Homo sapiens: one gene and its partner. The protein of the gene in region 1 purifies or fractionates together with the protein of each later gene. This does not show direct contact. Each region holds a gene or a part of one and is shown on either strand. Other genes may lie near its edges.

Region 1 (4,173 bases):
TCAGGAGTTCGAGACCAGCCTGGCCAACATGGTGAAACTCCGTCTCTACTAAAAATACAAAAATTAGCTGGGCATGGTGGCACATGCCTGTAATCCCAGCTACTCGGGAGGCTGAGGCAGGAGAATTGCTTGAACCCGGGAGGTGGAAGTTGTAGTGAGCCGAGATTGTGTCACTGCACTCCAGCCTGGCCGACAGAGCGAGACTGTCTCAAAAAATATATAATTGTGCTAAACTGAAATATACTAAAGAGTTCAGTTTAGCAAGATAAAAGGAACCCTCCAGATATTTCTTAGCCAGTTTGAGAAACAATACCACCTTTGAAAAGCCCTTCGTGTGCCTTATTTACCATTTATTAGATAATTAGAAGTGACTAGACTATTTGGTTTTGGTTTTAATACTGAGCATTACTAGCAGCTGTGATCCTGGCAGGCTATCTCCGAATAATTTTTTTTAAAGTGAAATACAGGCCGGGCACGGCGGCTTATGCCTATAATCCCAGCACTTTGGGAGGCAGAGGCGGGGAGGATCACTTGAGGTCAGGAGTTTGAAACCAGTCTGGCCAACATGGTGAAACCCCGTCGCTACTAAAAATACAAAAATTAGCCGGGCGTGGTGGCCCACGCCTGTAATCCCAGCTACTTGGGAGTCTGAGGCAGGAGAATCGCTTGAATCCGGGAGGCGGAGGTTGCTGTGAGCTGAGATCGCACCACTGCACTCCAGCCTGGGTGACAGAGACTCCGTCTCAAAAACAAAACAGGAACTTAAAACAATGGAACCCATTCACGTTCTTCTATTTGTCTTTAATAATCCTGGGTAATAGTCAACTAATAATCCTGGGTAGTAGTCTGGAGACACTCCTAGCGGAGTTTACTCGGGAGAGGGCGGAGAAATACATGACATGAGCAGTACAGGCTCATGGTTGGGAGCTGAGGGAAGGCTGAGAATCCTCCCGGAACCTCTGGATTCTGACGCCCCAGGGGTTCTTCACACAGGCTGGCCGGTCTCGGGATTGAAGCCGGAGACGTCAGACGCTAAGGTTGCTTAGACTGCGGCCCACGTGGAAGGCTCTTAGCCACCCTGCCTGGCCCGAGGTAATCGCGCTAGGGACGCTTTTTCTGCAGCAATGATATACCCCGCCGAACTGTCCCACGTCCTGGTTGGGACCTCTTGGTTTCGCTTGGCTGGGCTCAATCCATCCGTACGCCTCCGCCCTTCCCTCTTTGCGAACCCCTGCGGGTTCAGCGAATCGGCTGCAAGAAGCCCTGCATCCGCGAGGTAAGCGGCGGTTGGCGGCGGTGCCGGGGTTGGCAGCGCCCGCGGGTTGTCTACGCCGCGGGGCCTACGTCTCTGTCGGGCGTGCACCTCGGGAGCCACACCTGGGGCCCAGAGCCACCGCTCAGCACGCGGGCACGCGGCGGGAGGGAAGGAAACCGCGGCGCTGGGGATGGAGAGGGGGAAAGTGAAGAAGAAAGAGAAGGAAAAGGAGACGCAGGAGGAGAAAATCGGAGAAAAGGGTAGGGAAGAGAAAGTGAAAAGAAAGGAGGTGGAGCAGAAAATTAAACAAAAGCAAGAGAAGCAGGAGAGGAGAAAGGGAAAAGAGAAAGAGGAAAAGAGGACAAAGCAAGGGAAGGAGACAAACAAAGAGAAGGAACAATTTAAGGGACAAGAAGAGAAAGGGGAGAACAAGGACAGCACCTTGACAAGGACCCCGCTCGAGCCGCTGGTAAGAGACCCAGTGCCCAGGACCCCTTGCCCCAAGGCTTTTGTCGGCCGTTCAGACCCCAGCGCTGTCTCTGTTACGTCGGAGGCCCCCGACCGCGTGGGAGCGAATGGATCTCAACTGAGGGCTATTTACCTATGGATGAAAGAGATGCGCCAAACTTTGAACGACCCATCCCCTTTTCCCGGGCCCCCTGCCCACCCTAGCCCTTATCGCTACCCCTGTGTCTTAACCTCAGTCGGGTCTGTTGTTGAGGGACAAGAGATCTCGGTCTTCATGGGGACATGGGGAACGGCCCCTCTACTGCCCTTAGATCTGTCCAGCGCGCAACACTAGCGCACAGACCACCTGACCACATTTAGAAACCAGCCCCGAACCCTCCCCACACGCAGGCCCTCTTTGCATTGAATGCGTTCTTTGTCAGAAGGGGCAGGGTTCCTGAACGCAGGAGGTGTTTGGGGACGCTGCAGTTGTTTTCAGACCACCAGTACCATGAATGGATGGCGGAAAAGTTTTAACTGACAGGTCTTAGAAACTTGGCATTATTTGGGTCAGCTGAATGGTCTCTGTGCTCCTGGAGTTCCTGAGCTGGCTCCTTGGCTTAGAGCTGCGCTCTGGTTCTAAACAATTATGAATGATTAACACAGTTGTGTGTGTGTGTGTGTGTGTGTGTGTGTGTGTGTGTGTGTGTGTGTTCTTTTTTGAGACAGGGTCTTACTCTGCCTCTCAGGCTGGAGGGATCCTCCCACCTCAGCCTGGCACCGCCCCCATCTCCCAACCTCAGTGACTGGCACTACAGGCACACGCCACCATGTCCAGCTAATTTTTGTATTTTTGTGCAGAGCTGGAGTTTCGCCATGTAGCTCAGGCTGATCTCAAACTCCTGGGCTCCAGCAATCCGCCCGCCTCAGCCTCCCAAAGCGCTGGGATTACAGGCGTGAGCCACCACGGATTAACAGAGATTTGATCTCTGGTAAAACACAGACTACATAGACTCATATTTGGCTAAAGGAATAACTTTTGACAAAAACGGTGTTCAGAATCACATTTTGTGTCTGAACTGTTTTACAAATTCAGCTTTCCTTAGGAGAAGGTAAATGTGAGGAAGCCTGAATGCAGAATTTCTAGGTAGGATGGGCGTAGGGACAGCAACGTGGTTGGAAAGGGAACTGATATTTTTGTTTTTGTTTTTTTGAGACAGAGTCTGGCTCTGTCGCCCAGGCTTGAGTACAGTGGCGTGATCTCGGCTCACTGCAACCTCCACCTCCCAGGCTCAAGTCATCCTCCCACCTCAGCCTCCCAAGTAGCTGGGATTACAGGTGCACACCGCCGTGCCTAGCTAATTTCTGTATTTTTGGTAGAGATGGGGTTTCGCCATGTTGCCCAGGCTGGTCTTCAACTCCTGAGCTCAAGCGATCCACCCGCGTTGGCCTCCCAAAGTGCTGGGATTACAGGCATGAGCCACTGTGCCCGGCCTGGGAACTGCTTTTAATTCACACTATTTTATAGGGCCTAAGATGACATTAGTCTAGGTACCACTAAGAAAGAAAAAAAAGCCGGCGCAGTGGCTCACACCTGTAATCCCGGCACTTTGGGAGGCCAAGGTGGGTGGATCACCTGAGGTCAGGAGTTCCAGAACAGCCTAGCCAACATGGCAAAACCCCATCTCTACTAAAAATACAAAAAAAGTAGCTGGGCATGGTGGCATGTGCCTGTAATCCCAGCTACTCGGGAGGCTGAGGCAGGAAAATCGCGTGAACCTGGGAGGCAGAGGTTGTAGTGAGCCAAGATCGTGCCACTGCACTCCACAGAGAGAGATTCTGTATCAAAAAAAAAAAAAAAAAATTCTCCCAATCAAAATGTGACATACTCTCAATTGTCAAAGACATTCTAATTTCAGAGATATTAAAATGTGGAATGTGGGGGGAATATGTATCTTAGAATGAATGAAGTATGTTGGGGTAGGCTGAATAGGGCCTCTGGTGAAGACTGACAGGACACAATCCACTCTTGGCTGCCATTTCTTGGTGCCAGTATTGCTTTAAAACATGCAATTTTAAGCCATCCAATGAAGTCTCCCTTGCCCCTCTTCCTTACCTTGACACACTCTCAGAATGACATCATAACATTTAGATGCAAATGAAGGGAATGGAGAAGAGGCAGGGATGGAAGACATCTATGAAAATACAATTTAGTTTAAGAGCCATCAAAGATTTGCTCCAAGAACAAATACGTACATTTTTTCTTTTTCTTTTTTTTTTGAGACAGAGTTTCACTCATGTTGCCCAGGCTGGAGTGCAATGGCGCGATCTCAGCTCATTGCAACCTCCACCTCCCAGGTTCAAGTGATTGTCCTGCCTTACTTAGCCTCCCCAGTAGCTGGGATTACTGGCATTCGCCACCACGCCCGGCTAATTTTGTATTTTTACTAGAGACCGGATTTCACCATGTT
Region 2 (3,500 bases), on another chromosome or scaffold:
ATACAACATTCATCAAGCATATTTTATATTTGTATAGCCTTCTGGTTAATGATGGTGGATTAAATATACGTTTATTTCTAATCTCTCTTGAAAATCGACTGAAAGGATAATAAAGGGATTAAGAAGAGGCAATAACCACAAAACATAGGAGAGAAGAAATGACAATAAGGTTTTGGAAGCTGCAGTGCAGAAGGAAGAGAGGTAAACAATTTGATCTACTTGAGAGAGTTGAATCCCAAGCTGGCAGTGTGGCTAAGAAACAACCTGACAGAAAGGCTAAGGAATGGGTGGTAGGGCCCAAATTAGGAGGACTCTTTAGCATCTGTTCAAAAAGCAGTCAGACCTCCAAATCCATCCTGCACCCCTAAACTCTATGCAGCCTAGTAACTGTGTCTGACTCCCTTCATCCTAACAGAAAACTGGGAATGTATTCTGCAAGTCTCTGAGGGATATCATGCAAGATTAGGATAGGGTGCTTTCTGAGAAAAGGAGATAAGCAAAAGTTTCTATGTTGAGGGTTGAGACTCCCTGCTCTCTTCTCTCCCACAGCACTGGCAGCCTGGTGTCTAGCTCCCAGGAAGGAGATTGGAACAGATTTCTCCAGATAACTTGACCAGCTTAAGAGGAAAGACCTAAAGATACTGATATTGAGGGTTTTCTAACTAGTCAACTCAGCCAGATCACCCTGTGTTGAAGCCCCATCCATGTGTCTCGGGCTTTAAATAAGCTTTTTCAGACCCACCTTTTATATGTGCAAACAGCCCAGTTTCACCAGCATCTGTGTAAAGCCTTTAAAGAATAATAGAGAACAAAACAAAAAGAACAAACAAACAATAACAAGAGAGAAAGAAATGAAAAACATTGGAGAAGAAATAGACAATGTAGGAAGAAGAAAACTAATATGGGTTCTAAAAACAAGGGATCCACCCAACTTAAGAAGGATGTAAAGGGAATCTAAAGGTGATGGTAAAGAGATCCCAGAAAGACAGCTGGTGAAGACGGCAGTAAAAAGTAACTTGTTCAGTCTGGAATAAGCCAGAAGGGTCTAGGAGAAAGCTCTTTATCTAAGAAAAAGGAATCAATAGAATATCTGATGTTTTCAAAGTATTGAGGAACTTAGACAATTAGCGAAGAGTTTGTGAATTAATTATATAATAAATACTCAGAAAACTAAGCAAAGGCAAAACAAGACAATAACTCCAGGAAAAGTAGAAAGTTGTGCTTGAAAGGCAAAGTAATCATAGTATATATTGCATGGCTCAACATATTCATGTATTTTTTTTTTTTTTTGAGACAGTCTTGCACTGTTGCCCAGGCTGGAGTGCAGTGGCCCGATCTCGGCTCACTGCAAGCTCTGCCTCCCAGGTTCATGCCATTCTCCTGCCTCAGCCTCCCGAGTAGCTGGGACTACAGGTGCCCGCCACCACGCCCGGCTAACTTTTTTGTATTTTTTAGTAGAGATGGGGTTTCACCATGTTAGCCAAAATGGTCTCGATCTCCTGACCTTGTGATCCACCTGCCTCGGCCTCCCCAAGTGCTGGGATTACAGGCGTGAAACACCGTGCCCAGCCCATATATTTCTTATATATTCATAACAATGTGAATGCTAAATAGTGACCAGAATTTCCATGACTCTAATGAAAGTATAAGGAATGGCAAAGGTCTATAAGGATGGTAAATAGGGGTGTGTATTTGTGTGTGCTGGGGATCTGTGTATGTATGTGTGAAAGAGGGCTAAATCTTCACTCTGCATAGCTGGAAGTCCATAAATCATATCTAAAACTGAAAAATCAAGAAACAGAAACACGTTTTCTGAAACTATAGAGGTTAATATAAAAATAAATCAGTTTGCTCTAGGAAGGGGAAAATGGGAGGGAAGGAAGGCAGAGGTCTTACTGAACGAAACTTATCAAACTACTTGACTGCTTAAACTATGTGCATGTACAATTCTGATTTTGAACCATTATGGAAAAAGGTATCACACAGAATACAGAACATGACATGGAAAATGACATTTTAAGGAAAAGCATTATAAAACTATTTGATGCAGTTTTTGTAAATAATAATTATATAGTTTTTTTTTCTAAATTTTAGAATTAAAAGTTATTTCATGCAATGGCTCTGAATTATTGATTTAAGGATGCTGACGTATTGGGTTTAATATATTTTTAAGTTCTTTATGGTAAGGTATGACTTTATAAGTGTTGGATATTGATGTTGCAAACTTCTAACCATCATATTACAAACAACAACAGAGAACTCACATGAAAGAGAATTTTAAGAAGTTACCCACCCAAGACAGATACTCACTGTTGCCCCATTTTTAATGGCCTCTTCATATAGCCCAATAACATCAAAGGTGCCTTTACTTGCCAACAACTTTGCTTTGCAGATCCAGAATTTAGCAAATTTTTCAGCTTCAGGAATGCTGGACAATATGTTAAGTATTTCATTAGAAGGTACACCCTGAAATAAACCAAAATATCCAGAGGTAATTATTACCATTTCACTGTTAGTCTCACATCTCCTAATATTTATTACAGCAGGTATGCAGAAATTGGTTTGATCACTAATATTTTTGAACTTTTAAAAAAATTTCAATTTTACTGAGGTACAATGTACATGTAATAAAATGCACCTGTTTTAATTATCCATTTTAATGATTTGAGATTAATAATAATTATTATTTTTTTTTTGAGATGGAGTCTTGCTCTGTCGTCCAGGCTGGAGTGCAATGGCGCGATCTCGGTTCACTGCAACCTCCACCTCCCAGGTTCAAGCAAGTCTCCTGCCTCAGCCTCCCCAGTAGCTGGGACTACAGGCACATGCCACCACATGCTCGGCTAATTTTTTGTATTTTTAGTAGAGATGGGGTTTCACCGTGTTAGCCAGGATGGTCTTGATCTCCTGACCTCGTGATCCGCCCACCTCAGCCTCTTAACGTGCTGGGATTACAGGCATGAGCCACCATGCCTGGCTTAATTTTTCTTTTTTTTTTTGAGACAAGGTCTTACTCTGTTGCCCAGGCTGGAGTGCAGTGGTACGATCACAACTCGCTGCAACCTCTACCTCCTGGGATCAAGCAATCCTCCCACCTTAGCCTCTCGAGTAGCTGAGACCACAGGCATGAGCCACTGAGCCTGGCTTCCTCATCATTAAATTTTAAGAGTTATATGAGACCAAATAGAAAATGTTTATCATAGCTGAAGGTAAGAAATATGTTCATTTTTACATGGTACAAAAACAAAACAAATCCTAGAGTAAACATTTACATATTCATAATATTCCATATTTATAATAACGAGAACACTGAGTAGTGATGAGAATTTCCATAGGACTAATAGCAGTGTAAAGAATGACACAGGCATGCGAAGGTCATAGGGGTGTATATGTGTAAGTGTCAGGGATTTATGCAGGTGTTTATGAAAGAGGGTTAAATCCCACAAAAAGATAATTTGAAATGGATTCACTGGTTTGGTTCCCTTCTGGCTTGTGCCGTA

The links.
Region 2: the proteins of ARL9 (region 1) and CKAP2L purify together in Homo sapiens (affinity purification with mass spectrometry; one large-scale study listed by BioGRID and IntAct). This does not show direct contact.

Annotation. Positions count from the first base shown.
Region 1 is NC_000004.12:56,504,418-56,508,590, forward strand, and holds the start of ARL9 (ADP-ribosylation factor-like protein 9), read left to right. Parts: upstream 1-1,373; 5' UTR 1,374-1,445; coding exon 1,446-1,724; intron 1,725-2,115; exon of another isoform or gene 2,116-2,246; intron 2,247-4,173.
Region 2 is NC_000002.12:112,744,110-112,747,609, forward strand, and holds part of CKAP2L (cytoskeleton-associated protein 2-like), read right to left. Parts: intron 2,467-3,500; coding exon 2,311-2,466; intron 1-2,310. UniProt on the Homo sapiens protein: Microtubule-associated protein required for mitotic spindle formation and cell-cycle progression in neural progenitor cells.